Linked DNA regions of Homo sapiens: region 1 is linked to region 2. Evidence: fine-mapped expression QTL. Tissue or cell type: monocytes after LPS. Region 2 holds a variant in brackets; the other region holds the start of a gene. All regions are shown on one strand. Distances are between the middles of the regions.

Region 1 (8,096 bases), 250 kb before region 2:
ACCTACTCTGGAGGCTAAGGCAGGAGAACTGCTTGAACCTGGGAGGCGGAGGTTGCAGTGAGCCAAGACCGCGCCACTGCACCCCAGCCTAGGCGACAGTGACACTCCATCTCAAAAAAAAAAAACCAAACAGCAACAACAACAACAACAACAAAACAACCTTACAAGTATTAGATCACCAAATACAGAAAAATACCACGATCTTTAAATTAATTAACTGCCTGACATACCTCTGTGATATGTCTTTCCTACGTATTTTGGCTTTATACTCTTTGATTTATTCTTCATATGAAAATGATTTTGTGACATTATGTTCTATAGAGTTAATAGATATTCCAGTGTTTTCACTAGTAAAGTTGACTAAAATTTGTTTTTATTACTGATAGTTTAGAGGAGTTTCTTTTCAGTCCACAATGCATTATTGGGAAAGTAACATATTTTTAGGATTGTTTCAAAATTTAGGAAAATCACTATTAAATTTATTTCACATATAAACAATAAGATGTGGGAGGGTTTTCCATATTCTAGTTCTGAATCCGTACATACATTTCAAACATCATTTACCCCGTTACCCATATACTTCTGTGCTGGGTGCTGAAGTATGCAGTTATTAATACTTGGTGGTATAATTTCCATCCCTTTACCTTTGTGTCACAACACTGAAGGGCCCAAGTGACTGTCTTTGCACAGTCAAAATAGACATCACTGTCACAACTTTAATGCCCACAGACCACATAAATGTATTCCACTTAACCAATTCAACTTCCCTTTAGCCAGATCCCCACAAATGTCCACAATCACTCCACTTCTTTCGGAACAAGGGGAATTAGGACAACACGGAAGTTAGAATGAAAAGGGACAGCAGTCTTGTCTTAATTCAAGCTGCAATAACAAAGCATCCTAGACTGGGTGGCTTATGAACAACAGAAATTTATTTTTCACAGTTCTGGACGCCAGAAGAATGAGATCAGGGTGCCAGTGTGGTTGTGATGTGGGTGGGAAGGCCCTCTTCCAGTTGCAGACTGCCATCTTTTCTTTGTATCCTCAAGAGGCAGAAAGAGGGTGAGAGAGCTCTCTTGGGTTTCTTTTATAAGGGCATTTATTCCATCACCTCCCAAAGGCCCCACCTCCTAATACCATCACATTAGGGGTTAGGATTTCAACACATGAATTTGGGGGAGCACAAACATTCAGTCCACTGCAAATCGCTTGAGATTAAAATATCTTACTTTGGAAGCTTTTATAAAAATATAAGACCACATGAACATGTCTCTCAGGCTCCTTCTGTGTTGTTGGAAGAGGGCTGGAGTATAAGTTTCTTGGAATCTGCCTTTGGGTTTAGCTTTGGCCATATGCTTTAGAAGGAGCAGTCACAAACCTTGGCACATCTGTAGAAAGGAAGTAACCTAGGATGATGAAGGGTCAGGACACATTGCCATGTGTCCTGCATGACTTATGGGTCATGCAAAGATCTTGGAAAAGAGACAATTCAAGTGGTTCACAAGTTTGTCTTCAGTGCTTGGAGTACTCTCAGGTGGAAGAAATATTTCAACTCAATATAAGGGATCACTTCCTAATGTCAGGCCAGTTTCAATGCAGAATTGACCAGCTTGTAAAGTACTGAGTTCTCTTTAAGGGAATGGCTCCAGGAGAGGATAAGTGAGACCCGGTCAGAGATCTTGTGAAGGAGAGTGGTGGTGATGACGAACGGGGAGTGCAGTGTGAAAGAACCTACCTAATCTTTACACACCTTTGCAAGTTTGAGATTTTTAGGATGACTTTGCTATTAATGTTCTTTGATGCCTTAGTCTCGGTTTTAATGGTCGATATGTAGAAAGTTTTAAAGGTAGTAGGGGCTGCTTTTAAAGTGAGAGAAAAATGTTTTTTAAGACCTAGGGCAGCAATAGTGATTCACTTTGCCTCTATTCATTTTTAGGGTTCTTCTTTCTCCCTCCTTTCCTCCCTTCCTCCCTTCCTCCTCTTTTCTTTTCTTTCTTTTTCTGTTTTTCTTTTCTTTCTTTCTTTTTCCTCCTCCTCCTCCTTCTTCTTCCTCTTCCTCTTCTTTTTTGACAAGGTGACAGGGTCTTGCTCTGTCTTCAAGCTGGAGTGCAGTGGTGCAATCACAGCTCATTGCAGTCTTGAAATCCTGGGCTCAACTGATCTTCCTGCCTCAGCCTCCAGAGTAACTGCGATTACAGGTTCAGGCCACCATGCCTGGCTATTTTTATTTTTATTTCTTTCTTTATTTAATGTATTATACTTTAAGTTCTGGGATATATGTGCAGAACGTGGAGGTTTGTTACATAGGTATACACGTGCCATGGTGGTTTGCTGCACCCATCAACCCATCATCTACATTAGGTATTTCTCCTAATGAGATCCCTCCCCTAGCCCCACAACCCCCGATAGGCCCCTCCTCCCTGATGTGATGTTCTCCTCCCTGTGTTCATGTGTTCTCATTGTTCAGCTCCCACTTATGAGTGAGAAAACGCAGTGTTTGGTTTTCTGTTCCTGTGTTAGTGGGGTCTCACTATGTTGCCCAGATTGGTCTTAAACTCCTGGCTTCAAGAGATCCTCCTGCCTCAGGCATGATTACAGGTGTGAGCCACTGCACCTGGCCCATTTTGACTAGAATGTAACATAGTGGTTAATCAACACAAAGAAGCTAAGGATTGCAGGTGTGGGGTTGCTGGATTTGAGTAAGTTGTGAAGGAGAACATCATGTGGGAACAAACCTCTAGGATCCCTGTTCTTCCAGCAAGAACTGGAATTGGGCCTTTTGTGGGGTGGGGCTCTTTGATTCTGTGGAGGATCCTAACAGTGATGCCTGGGCTGATAGATCCAGGGGACTAAGAAGTCAGGGCTCCTCTGAGACATGTGACAAAACACAGCTGACACTGACTTGAAATAAAAGAGAGAGGATTTATTGGCTTCAAGGGTAGAGTTCACTGCAGACACATCTACCTCCTGAGGTTCCTGAGAGGGTGGGACATCACCCTCTCACCAGCAGCTTTTCTTCCCTCAAAGTTGGCTTCATTGGCATGCACTGTTGGTCCTTGTTACCGTAGGCTTATATCCTTCCAATTTAGTTATCCTAGTTTAAAGAGCTTATTTTTCTGCAGTAATACATCCAAAGCCCTAGGCCGAGTTCCTGGATCAACATGCCCAACCCAGAACCGATCACTGCGGTCCGGAAGATGACTGGCTAGTTCTGGGGGTTGAGGGTGGGAGGTGTCAGTACCCTGGAGCCACAAAGACTCATTGTGGGTGAGGGGGAAGGGCAGTTCCCATAGGAATAATGAACTGCTGTTACCAGAAAAGGCGGAGAAATGGATAATATTGAGCACACACTCAAAAGTCCCAAAGGAATGGCTATCCATTATTTGGGGACTTACTCCATATGGATATAGTTAAATTGTAAAATTGAATAAATCTTCCCTAAATCTGGACAGATGCAAGGGTGGGTGGGGAGGGACACAATATATTTACACTTTAGCATTTTTACTTTTTCTCCTACGTGGGACTGGTTGATGAAGATGCTATAGAAGTAAACAGAAAGCCGAAAGTATTAATACAGTAATTTTAAATTTTAGTGCCCTCTTTAGGCAAAGTATCTGGGAACGCTTTCAATAATCCATTTTTTCATCGTGACCACACCCTGTGTGTGCGACATGAGTATTACCGTCTTGCCCTTGCAGTTGGGGAAACCGAGGCATGACACTCCCCTATTCAGCTTTCTGGTGGGGTTGAGGAACAGTGTTGTCTGCACGACCTCAGAGGGTCTCCTCCACCCTCCGCGACACCTCTAGGAATCCTCCTGTCCTTCGACTTCGCAGAAGGAGAGCAACTCAGGCTCCGCCGCAGCCTCGGGACTCGTCCTCCGCCCAGCCGCACCCGCCCCGTTCTTCCGCACCTTCCTCAGGGAGGTCCCGCTGGCCAAGGTCTGGCTGTCCCTCCTGTCCTCTGCCCCCGCCTCCCTTCCACCGGTCCCCGACGTGCCGCCAGCTCCCAGCCCAGCGTCCCGCAGGGCGGTGCGGGCAGATGCCGCCGAAGCGTCTAGCGGGAAGGGCGCCGGCGCGGCTGGAGGTGAGGAGGCCGGACTCTTCGCTCTCCGCGGACCGGGGCACCGCGGCTGGAGCGGACGCCCGGCACCCGGGCGGGAGGAAGGTGGCGGCAGGGAGCGGCGAGAGGGTGGCGACGCAGGCGGGTCGGCGCCTGGAGAGCGAGCGGCGGGGAGCCGGGCGCTGCGGGGCCGCTCGGGGCCGCGCCGCGCTCGGCCACAAACCTCCCGGAGGCGCAGGACCCCCGGCGCCCTCCCGAGCGCGGGCGGGAGCCATGGCTTCGCGCGTCCCCGCTGCCGCTGCTGACTCGACACAATCGGCGGGTCGCGCGGGGGCCGTGGCGTAACCCGGGGGTGGGTGGCGGCGCGGAGCCGCCTCGAGAGCTCTGGGTGTCGCTGGGAGCTAGGAAGATGCCAGCACAAAGGCGAGCCGAGACCCAGCCCGCTGCGGAGGGCGGCGGGAAGAGCCGCTGAGGGGCGCGCCGAGCGCGCTCTGCCCCTGCGCCGCGTCTCTCCGGGCGCTTCTCGCGGTCTCGGGGTCGGGGACTGCAGCGCAGAGACTCTCGGCTCCGTGGCAGCGGCCGCAGCAGCCGTGAGCTGCATGCAACGCGCGGCGGCGCCCCCGGCCGCCTGCTTTCTCCTCGGCGCGCACGGACCGGCCGCAGGGCGCCGGGGCCGCGGGTCCGGGCGACTTTGGGGGCGCCCTCCCGCCCCGCGGCCGGGTCCCCACCCGCAGCTTGTGGCGACGGGCGCAAAGCCCAGGTGAGCGCGCGGCCCTCGCCGCAGGTAGCGGACGGCGGGAGGTGGCTTTGTTTTTCCTCCCTTGCGCCCCGGCGCGGTCATTCATTTGCCATTTCGGTTTCCGCTGCCCAGGATGTGTTGGATGGTTTGGTTCTCCAGGGAAACTGGGACTTTGGGGTCTATTTGAGCATCAGTTGAGGGAGAGGACGCTTCATTTCCTTTTTGGTTGGGAATGTGCCGTGAACATCCTCTGCTGGAGCTTGGGGCCTGGAGCAAACTGGGGCTGCAGATTTAGACGTAGACGTTTCCGAGGACGCGAGACTGCAGAGGTCTGACTCTCTCATGCCTTGTCTTCACTATTAGCAGCGCTCGGGTGCTTTTCGTCGTTTATTATTATTAATTTAGAGAACATCTTTACAGGCACATTTCTTTTAGAGTTAGAAGTCTTTGGAGTCAGTACAGAGAGCTCACAATTAGAGTTACAAGGGTTCAATCGATATTAAACTTCAGGAAGGAAAACATTTGTGATCATTACAGATAGAGGTGGACAGCATGCAAACTTCGGGGGCCTTTAGCTTTTGGGTTATGATTTCTGCTTTCACTGTCCTAGACTCACGCAAACTGTTTTCGTATATATATACCTTTGTGAAAGTGTGAAACTTGTCTTTTCTGGAGTAGTGTTCTATAGTTTGTCATTTAGAAGAAGAATATTTTAGTGTAATTAGTAGAGCTCTCCATGTGTTTGTCTTATAAATATGATTTTCTTTTTACTATTTCTCCTATTCCCTCGAGGGTTCATTTCTTCTGTTGCTTTGAGAGAGCTTTTTTTCTTTCTCTTCCCAACAGATGGCTGTATGTTCCAAGAGGTTATCTTTAAAATGACACACACATTATCTACAAAGAAAGAAAGATCAGTTATTGACTTTATCTTTGGAGTTATTAAAATAAAAGGCCTAATCTGGATGGGGATATTATTAATGGCGTGAAAATCTGGAGTTTGCTAATCTGTTTGGTCATCAGAAGATTCCTGCGGGGATTGTTTATATAGCGTGGGAGACAGATGGCATCCCTAGCAGACTAGAGAAGCCAGGCATAAAGGGTCATTGTATTCTTCAGAAATTATCCACTTCACTATTAGAGGTGGGGTAGGGTGGGGTGGAGGGTGGCAAAGACATTTTGATCTCTTAAAGGAGACACTGTAACGTTACTATCCAGCAGTCTAACCAGCTTTAATTTTTCTTTTTGTTGAACATTCAAAAAGTCCCAATTGAGCTATTTGTTTTGATTATTTCATTGGCACATTTTGGCTTCGATGTGGTTGTGTGAAGCAGTTTATTAACAAAAATGTCTTTGAACTTAAAAATAATCGTGCTGCTTCTGGGGGAAAATCAGTTGCACCTTTCTTAGCTCTTGTATATAAATGGCCCCTTGGACTCAAACCGTCTTCTGGCTGGAAAGACTTTAGTCTTCATTAGTTTGAATCCAGTTTCCTTCACCATCTCCGTGACAGGTGATTTCCAAATCCCCACCATTTGGCCGCAGACTCTGAGGTTTGGGCACCATGATGATTTCCCAGTCTAAGACATTCGCTTCACCATCGCCTCTATCACGGTATTGGGCAACATTTGGCAATGAATCTTTATGAATGGCTGTGGTGTCGGTAAAGAAATCAAAATCATTCTGAACATTTGAGATAAACCAGCTGGAGCTTTTCTGCGCCTACCACTGTTGTGGATTATCTATGTGTTGTGTAGATTGCAACCAGATCACAAAGCTAGTTTTCCCTCTTTATGAATGTGAAGGAAAATATTCCAGTAAATTAACATTTGCCAGCCACAGGACTAAATTTAATGAAGATTATGAGCAATGTTTGACCCCTCTGAACAGGAGACAAAAAATAAAAGTAAGCACTGGTTCTGTTTCACTTGGGCAATGTGATCTTGGGAGAAAAACCTATATTTTCTTACTCTTTTAAAAGGCTTTTGCAACACTGATTTCAGCCAAAGGCAAAGAAACCAAGGTTGTTACCTGTAGTTGAGGACAGATGCTTTGGCGTTTTCTCCTAGATGAATGTGTTTTGCAGGAGAGGTGGCTTTTGGGATCTTCCCAGTTTTAATATGTGCCTACACATCAATGAAATGATCTTGCATTCAAAATGCTTGTTAAGTCTATATGGTTGGTATCTGTGTAACCTCTAACCAGGTGGCTTTCTCTGTTGTGAAGTGTTCCTTTAAGAGAAACCAGAGGCTTCTCGCCTGGGGCTTGCTGTGGGCCTGGCCTGGATCCACATTCTTGTGCATTGCTGACTACTTTCTTGGGAAAAACTGGAACCAGTTTTGCTTGGTGTGTTGGATAGGGAATGGCAGCATTGGGTGAAAACCTTTCCAGCTCTGTTATCAAAAGCCAGGCCTGGCCTGAAAGAGGGAGGACTATGTTTGAAGTTTGATTGATTTAACAGAGGCAGAGGTTGCTTCATTACACACAGGATGCCTTTTGTATCAGGATATGAATGAGAGATTAGAAAGGTGACGAGATGCCCTGCTTTGCTTGTGACAGTGCCAGTTTACTCCTGTTGGTTTATCTTAATTATCAAAAGCACCCCCTTTCACATGTAAAAGTGTCCTGGTTTGGGTGATAATTATCTGGTCACCCTAGATATTAAGGAATCCTGAATTTTTTTCATCACCCCTCTTCCGACACCAGATTTTGAGTCTTGCCTTATTTCAGTCTTTTATTTATTAAATGCAAAGCTAGAAAATCAGAAAAATTTAAACCTGAAAAATATATAAGAAAAAATGAAATAGGAGGAAGGAAGATAGGAGAATGAGATAATTGCTTGTCATCTATTTACACACATAGTGAATAAAATAGTTTTATTCTTAAGTTACTAAGCATCTGCCGTGGCTGTAAGCCCATATTATTATTGTCTTCAAGCACAATATGAATTAACACCTGTCCATATATCTAGAGCTGACACTAATTGGGACAAATCCTTTGATTTGGGAGAGCAGTTTCTACAAAACCTGTTTGCAGACCTAGTGGTTACCATGGCTCTTAGAGGTAGGAATGCAAGTTTCAAGATCTAGTGTCTGGTCCAGATCTTGGATATTTACTGAGATTCCAGAACACAAGTGTTGTTGTGAAGACTTGATTCCACATTCTCTTAGTTTCCAAGCTCTCAGGGCCATGAGGATAATAGGAGGGCTTTTGTTTTCTGTACTCCCTTGTGTCTCCAGTGTTTGGTTTGGGTCTCAGCTTTTCATACAGAGGGGTCGCAGAGAGGGAGAACTGTTGT
Region 2 (8,108 bases):
ACAATGTCTGGCTTAGATTTGTAGACTTCTCAAAGGAGATCTCCGTAAACTCTTCCAAAGACACTTTAAACCTAACAGCTCAGAACCATATGAATCAAGCACAGACACCAGGATGACTAATCATTCCTCCTCTTTTTTCCTCTTTTAACAAAACATGGTTACCTTTACCATAGTAATTTTCGCATTGCATTATATATCTATGTGCCTTATCCCGTCAGCTCCTTATGGCAGGAAATATCCCCCCTTATCCCGTCAGCTGCTTATGGCAGGAAATAGATGCTTATGGTCTTCATAGTAGTCAGTCAATAAATACCTGTCAAATGAATGAATGAATGAACAAGGTAACAAATGAGAGGGACAATGGTCAAAGACATATGCATGGTCCACAGCATTGCTGTGATTGCTCAACTTCCCTGGAAATAACCATGAAGCAGAATTTTTCAAAATGTGGTCTTTATGGTACTTGCATCTGAATCATCTGGTTGGGGTGCTTGCTAAAATTCAGATTCCTGAGCCCAGACTCAAACCTACTAAATTCAAAGTCTCTGGAAGAGCAGCACAAGAATTAGCATTTTATTTGTTTATTTTTTTAAGACGGAGTCTCGCCCTGTTGCCCAGGCCGGAGTGCAGTGGCACAATCTCAGCTCCCTGCAACCTCCACCTCCCAGGTTCAAGCAGTTCTCCTGCCTCAGCCTCCCGTATAGCTGGGATTACAGGTGTGTGCCTCCACACCCAGCTAATTTTTTGTATTTTTATTAGAGTCGAGGTTTCACCATGTTAGCCAGGCTGATCTCAAACTCCTGACCTCAAGTGATCTGCCTGCCTCGGCCTCCCAAAGTGCTGGGATTACAAGCATGAGCCACCATGCAGGAAGTAGCATTTTAAAGAAGCACCACCCACCCCCTCATTCATTGTGAGCCATGAAGTTGGGCATTCGTTGCCCTGGAGGATCAGGTAGCTAAAAGAGATGGTGACCCGTGAGGATCTGTGACAGTGAATGTGCAGGAGATTTTGGTAAGTCTGCTTATATAGAGATTCTGTTTAAGACCCCTAGGTGTTCCTCCTAAAAATAATGTGGTTTTAATGAAGGAAAAGGGGCCTATTTCTCACCTCATTAACAAGCTCTGAGAAGTTTCTCTGTGTCATTATATAGTTAGTAGAAGAGGGTTGTGTGTTGTAATCTTCTATTTCTACTCTTTTATCTCCTGGGTCCAAACACTTTGTTTCTCCCTTGAAGAAGCAGAATTAACATAACTAATTCCAGTATTAGTAACAGGATTAATGGGAGTAGCTCTAAGTTGTAATTTAAAATAATAATAAATGAAATCACTTTGGATAAGTATCATGTTCAGGCATGGTGGCTCACATCTGTAATCCCAGTACTTTGGGAGGCCAAGGTACGCATGTGTGCGCGCGCACACACACACACACACACGTTTCACTTTTCTATTTAGAGAAAATGTGTAGCCAACTAGACTTGTAAGAGAATGAAGAAGTCGTGAGACACAAAGGGACAAGCTTAATATAAAGCCTACCAAACAAAATTAGATTTAGAAGGTATTTGGGTATATATGTATTAACATCTCCAATGTCCCTTTCTTTGTAATTATATTTCCACTAGGAAGTAACCTAAGAATCTAGAATATATACTCCTGTAATATAGACTGTTTTGTAACAAAAAAACAGACACTTTAATCCTAGTACGAGAGGAAATAGGAATGAGGATGGGAAAGAAGGCAAGGAAGGTAATAGTCAAAGAACAAAGACAAAAGCAGGAGAATATGCCTCATGGAAGCTGACAGGTGTCTAGGTTGAGTGGAAGGTCCCTCTAGAGAAAAAGGTTAAATATTAAGATGACAGAAAGTGACTGGTGGAGAAGAGGGTGCCGCAGGCACCACTGTAAGGGGGAGTAGAACCCTGGGCAAGAAGGCAAGAAGTAGGCACAGATACAGAGGAGATAGTAGTAGGGAGATGGAGAAATCAAGGGAGATCAGGCCTAATGTCCTCTTGGATGCCACAGAATGCATGAGTTTAGGGACACAGAGTTCACACAGAGTTCCAGTGAGGGTGGAAATTAGGTAGGGGATGTGAGGACAGAGACAGATTTGGAATTGTTAAGAGAAACGAGAAAGGGAAGTGGCCAAGTATAACTTGGTTTTAAAGACCAGTGGCATTCTATGATTTGTCGGAACCTTTACTCAGTTAAAGGAAGAAATAAAGTTATAATTACTTCTATATTACACATGTGGGGGATTTAGAATTGTTTCTTTGATATACCTTTTTATATTCAGTTATTGTTCTTTTTTTTGAGTTAGGGTCTTGCTCTGTCATCTGGGCTACAGTGCAGTGGTGCAATCGTGGCTCACTGCAGCCTCAAACTCCTGGGCTCAAGGGACACCCCTGTCTCAGCCTTCTGAGTAACTAGGGCTACAGGTGCATGCCACCATGCCCAGCTAATTAAAAAAATTTTTTTTTTGTAGAGACAGGGTCTTGTTGTGTTGCCCAGGCTGGTCTCAAACTTCTGGCCTCAAGCAATCCTCCTATCTTGTCCTACTGAAGTGTTAGGATGACAGGCATGACCCACTGCACCTGGGCCCACTATTGTTCTTACTTTGGGTTGGGGGCATTTTGAAAAAACCAAATCACCTCATACAGGTACTAAATGAGGATAAAAAAGAATAGTTCATTGAATATAGGAAAAAAAATATGTTGGCCTATACAAAAAAATCCATGAACAATAGAGCTGAGCAGAGAAAATGCTACCACTCTAAAATGATTCTCAGGCTAGACCAAAATTGACTGCAACGTAAACAAAGATGTGAACAAAAAATTTAATCTAAAGGACTAATTAAAATTGATCTTCTTGGAACAAAGGAATTAGTCATTCTAGGCATTTCTTAGCATGATGTGCCAAGGCTGGCCATAGCTCTGCTAGCCACAGTAGGAGCAGTGGCAGTTGTAGAGATTGTAGTAGCCATTTCACAGTAATGTGAACTCTGTGTCCCTAAACTTATTTCTCAGGATTCATATTTGCAATTAAGGGTTGCTGCCACTCAGTGGCGGAAGTATTTGTATCTGTCAAGGATAATGAATTATCAAGAATATGATCACATCAAAGAAAAATTTCCATCTAGAATAACCAGAATATTAACTTGAGGGTCTCTTACTTGACAAGCACCATGGTTGGCAAGGAATAACGCAGCAGCTTTCCTTCCTTATGAAGGCCAAAGGATGGTCACTGGCCATGGCATTTGAACTTGTTTTCTGTAATCAAAACAGGCCCATCCAGCTTCTGCTCAGGGTCAGCTCATTCTGCTTCTGACCCATTTTTTGTCGTATATGGAACATTTGTGTTCTGTGTGAACCTGAATACTCATGGTACAATTTACCCATTTGGCTTCAAAGGGCTAACTTTTATTTCTTTAAATGTCACAGATTTCACCAGGCCAGGTGTGGTGGCTCATGCCTGTAATCCCAGCAGTTTCAGAGGTTGAGGCAGGCTGATCACCCAAGGTCAGGAGTTCGAGACCAGCCTAGCCAACATGGTGAAACCTCATCTCTATTTTGTATTTTGTATTTTGAAAAATACAAAAATTAGCCAGGCGTGGTGGCTTACACCTGTAATCCTAGCATTTTGGGAGGCCAAAGCAGGTGGATCACGAGGTCAGGAATTCGAGACCAGCCTGGCCAACATGGTGAAACCCCGTCTCTACTGAAAATATAAAAATCAAAAAAATTAGCTGGGCGTGGTGGCAGGCGCCTGTAATCCCAGCTACTCGGGAGGCTGAGGCAGGAGAATCACTTGAACCCAGGAGGCAGAGGTTGCAGTGAGCTTAGATAACACCACTGTACTCCAGCCTGGGTGACAGAATGAGACTCCATGTCAAAAAAAATAAATAAATAAATAAAAAGTCACCAAACGGAAATGGAATTTTTTTTTTTTTTTT[TG/G]AGACGGAGTCTCACTCTGTCGCCCAGGCTAGAGTACGGTGGCGTGATCTCGGCTCACTGCAAACTCCACCTCTCGGGTTCAAGCAATTCACCTGCCTCAGCCTCCCGAGTAGCTGGGATTACAGGCGCCTGTCACCACGCCCAGCTAATTTTTTTGTTTTCTGTATTTTCAGTAGACACAGGGTTTCACCATGTTGGCCAGGCTGGTCTCGAATTCCTGACCTCGTGATCCACCTGCCTCAGCCTCCAAAAGTGCTAGGATTACAGGTGTGAGCCACTGTGCCCGGCTGGAAATGGAATTTTCTACATGGCCTATGAACTAACCAGGGGAACTAAGGCAGAGTTACAGAGATATAGAGTTTATCCCAACCTACAGGAGCTGGTGGGTGGATTGAACACTTAACTCTAGGCTTGTTTCATGGTAAAGGGTCTGGGAAGAAAGCACACGTTATTTATTCTCCCTTATTTCCTACTTCTGAGACTAAGCAAGGGTATGCAAGTAGTACAATATTTATACCTAGAGATGAACCTAACTAGCAAAGGAAGTGATATTAGTGACCCACTTAGAATAAGAGATGCTGACACCAGTTCTCTGTCCAAGCTCCCTTCTAGGGACCATGTAAAGGAGCCTCAGGATCTCCTCTGTCCAGGGTTCAGGCCTCATCCTCATCCCATTCCTACCCATCCATTCTAATTTTTGACCCTCACTGGTCCATGTTCCCAAAATTGTCATGTCAGAAATGCGTTTGGATTAATTTATTGGCTTAATTGATTGCCTGGGGAGAAAAAGTTTAGTAATACCAAATAATGCATACACTTTTACAGTGAGGTCACATTAACAGGTACAACTTTTTTACAGTTGCTTTTTATCTTCTTGATTCTAGTACTTGCTCCTTAAAACCAGATTTGATACTGCCTCATCTTTTCTGAGGCCTCAAGAGGAAGGAATCTGTTACAACAACGTTTTTAGGAAATTTCCCATGTACATAACTACTTTTTTAAAAAGCTTTGTGAATAGGTGGACACCCTCTATCTCCTATGTGTGTGTTCTCTTTCTTTTAGAGTCCAGCCTTCTGTGCCTTCCAAGTGACCAGTAGCTAATAAGTAAATTTATTTGTGAAAATAGGAGAGTTCTTCTCCCAGCATCCAAGCAGCTCTGCTAATTAAAGTATCTTTCAGAAGGTGAAGCAAATACCCTTGTTGTCTAACCTGGAGCAGTGATCCAAACTTGAGGATTCCAGATCAAGTCAGAAATGATGAGTCTGAATCACTGAGTGGTTTTTAGGATGGGTATATCTGTTAAGAATTGTGTGTAGCTGCAGGTAACAGAAACACAACCACAGTGGCTTAACCAAATGGGATTTTTTTTTCCTAGGTAGCAAGAAGCCTGAAGGCAGGTGGGTCAGGGCTCAATGGATCATCCTGATTGCGTCTTGCTTCTTGCTCTGCCATCTTAGCAATGTGGCTTTACTTCAAAAAGAGGGGACAGGGAAGAGCAAAAGGATGTTGAGTTTGTCCTTTTCTTATTAGGAAAATTACAGTTTTCCATAGGGTTCCACCTAGTAGACTTCCACTTACATTTCACTGGGCAGAACCAGGCCACATGTCACCATTAGCTGGATGGGATTTTGGAGAGGTATTTTTAACAGGGCACATTGTTGCCTTGAACAAAATTGGGGTTCAGTTGGCAAGGTAGAAGCTCAGTGGTTATGCAGCAAGCAGGGTCTGCCCTGAGGAGCCATGTGATACCTTTCAAATCCAGTGATTTTTAAGTGATTGCCCGAGTACCATCTAAGTATCAGCATCTTGGTTATATTTCTGTATGAAATGGAGTTGTTTGCTCGCATTGTTTATCTAGGAGAGGATGTGATGCCATGAATGGGTTATGTCTTTCCATTCTTATAAAGAACAGTGGCTGCTTCTTGGCCTTTCACAGTAAAGAACCTTTGACTTATAATGTGCTCAATGCAAATGCATGAAAGGACCATCCCTCCCAAAGTTCTTTGGCTTTTCAATATGATGAAACTAGTAGGGCAACCACAAAAAAAACCAGAAATCCCTCTGTCCCCTTGCTTTGACCCATTTTCTGTTTCTTTCATGCTTAAAAGAAGAAAGGTTTTTCTCCTCAGGACTATTCCTTTGGGCTTGGGACCTTTTCTCCATCTTTCCATTTTTAGTGTAGCTCATACTTCACCCCGTCTTCTTTATTCCAACTCTCAGTTAAAGTGCAACCTTAATCCTTCCTCCTTGGAAAGGGATTTGGGGAAACAAATGAGGTACATCTGGCATTAAGAGCCAGGATCACTATATACTTTTTAATGTGCCTATAAAACTCCAAATTGTCTCCTTTTCGTGTTTTCTAGTTTCATTTCCTATTCTGGGCCACTAAGACAGAGCTTCAAACTAGTGTAATGTGAGCAAATTATAGAATATGAATCCCCAGTCCTCAGGGTGCTGGGGGCAGAGTCTGAGGAAGCCAGAGCATCCCTGCCTGTCATATTAAATTGTAATCATGGCCTCTGTTGAATCTAGTGTTGCCATACAAATACTACCACTTTCTTTGTGCCATGAGGTCAGAAAGCTTGGAAAATGCTGCTTTCAGGCCTTTTGGGGGGATCACTGTTCTTTCTATTCTTCTTCAACACAAAAGCCTATAGAGACTCTTTTTTTTTTTTTTTTTTTTTTCTTATCTTGTCTCAAGGTCTATGCCTTTGGTCTTTTGCAAAGGACTGTCCTGACAGATGTGATGAACTTGGTTTGTGTTCCCTAAACACTGTTCCTGGCAAAGCTGTGCTGTATCTTGACTCACTTTCGTAGCTTAACGTCCCTTTTGTTCATCCCATCTTGAATTCTGTTATATTCTCCTAGGTCTGTTCTTCCTTTCCTTTTTATAAAAGCGTTTTACAAATGGGAGCACACCCAACCCCTTTGTTATAAATCAGCTCATAGCTAAAGTTGTAGCAGTTGTACCCTTTGTTCTTTGCAGTTTTGTCTTTTGGCAACATTGACCACCTTGGCCAAGCCCAGAGATGCCATCTTCTTTCCCCCCAGCCTTCTTTCTCCCACATAAATGCAAGCACAGAAACTCGGGTAATACTCTGCTGGGAGGTAGTCATTAAGAATAATGTGCATTATATTTTCTCATTTATCTTTTTTCCATTTATTTTAGAACTTATGTTAATCTTCCTGCTACGGAGAGAAAGGTTATAATTAATCTGAAAAGTGTTTCTTTGGTTTTTCTAGATGAGAATTCTCCAGCCAACTTCTGGGATTCTAAGAACAGGGGTGTGACTGGAACACAAAAAGGGCAAATTGTATGGAGAATTGAGCCTGGGCCCTATTTCATGGAACGTAAGTAACTAAGTGTGAAATATAAACTTATTATTGAACATTGCATAAGTATGCAGAATTCTATGGAGTCTTTTTGAATGTTATTTTGAAATTCTTTGGTTTGGATTTACATATTTATGCCATGATGGAAAATATATTGTTTTAGAAAATGCTCAGTAAAGAATGTTCACATATTTTGAAAAAACTGTATGTGTTTAAATATACAGTTAGCCATCCATATCCGTGGATTTCACACCTACAGATTCAACCAACTGTGGATCAAAAATATTCAGGAAAAAAAAATGTCATTTTGTCTCTACTGAACAAGTACAGACATTTTTTCTTATTATTCCCTAAACAATATGGTATAACAATTATTTGCATAGCATTTATGTTAGGTATTATAAGTTATCTAGAGATGATTTAAAGTATACGAGAGGATGTACACAGGTTATATGCATATACTCTGACACTTTATGTAAGGAACTTGAGCATCTGTGGATTTTGGTATCCCATGGGGGTCTTGGAACGAATCCCCCGTGGATATCAAGGGACAACTATATAATATGTGCATGTGTGTATATGTATATACACACACACACACACAAACATACACATTTACATATATATGCAAATATTACATGTACATACATATACATGTATATATACAAAAATATATATAGTATATTTTATATTTTACATATACATAATGTATGGTATATAAATTATATATGGTTACTTTAATACTTTACACATTTTTATATACCCTTTATATCTATAATTAATATTTATTCATATGAATTTCAGAAAGAATAAGTCAAGATATCGCT

Which allele goes with the higher level. Positions count from the first base shown, and alleles are read on the strand shown. Sizes are in standard deviations (SD) of each study's normalised expression.
In carriers of allele G in region 2, the expression in monocytes after LPS of the gene that starts at base 4,040 in region 1 tends to be higher than with TG alone (moderate effect, 0.66 SD a copy in Fairfax 2014).

What was found. PIP is the estimated chance that this variant, and not a neighbour inherited with it, causes the effect.
Region 1: HECW2 starts here. The variant in region 2 is fine-mapped to the expression of HECW2 in monocytes after LPS (Fairfax 2014, PIP 0.95).

What each region holds. Positions count from the first base shown.
Region 1 is chr2:196,589,498-196,597,593 of GRCh38, reverse strand. It overlaps HECW2 (HECT, C2 and WW domain containing E3 ubiquitin protein ligase 2), which reads left to right and starts at 4,040. Exons shown (of 29, transcript NM_001348768.2): 1 at 4,040-4,086. RefSeq lists silencers at 4,082-4,351, 4,432-4,811.
Region 2 is chr2:196,342,848-196,350,955 of GRCh38, reverse strand. HECW2 (HECT, C2 and WW domain containing E3 ubiquitin protein ligase 2) reads left to right here. Exons shown (of 29, transcript NM_001348768.2): 3 at 7,192-7,299. Among named protein-coding and RNA genes, the nearest start is that of HECW2-AS1, 87 kb to the right of the region's middle. The variant TG/G (reference allele first, on the strand shown) is at 3,948.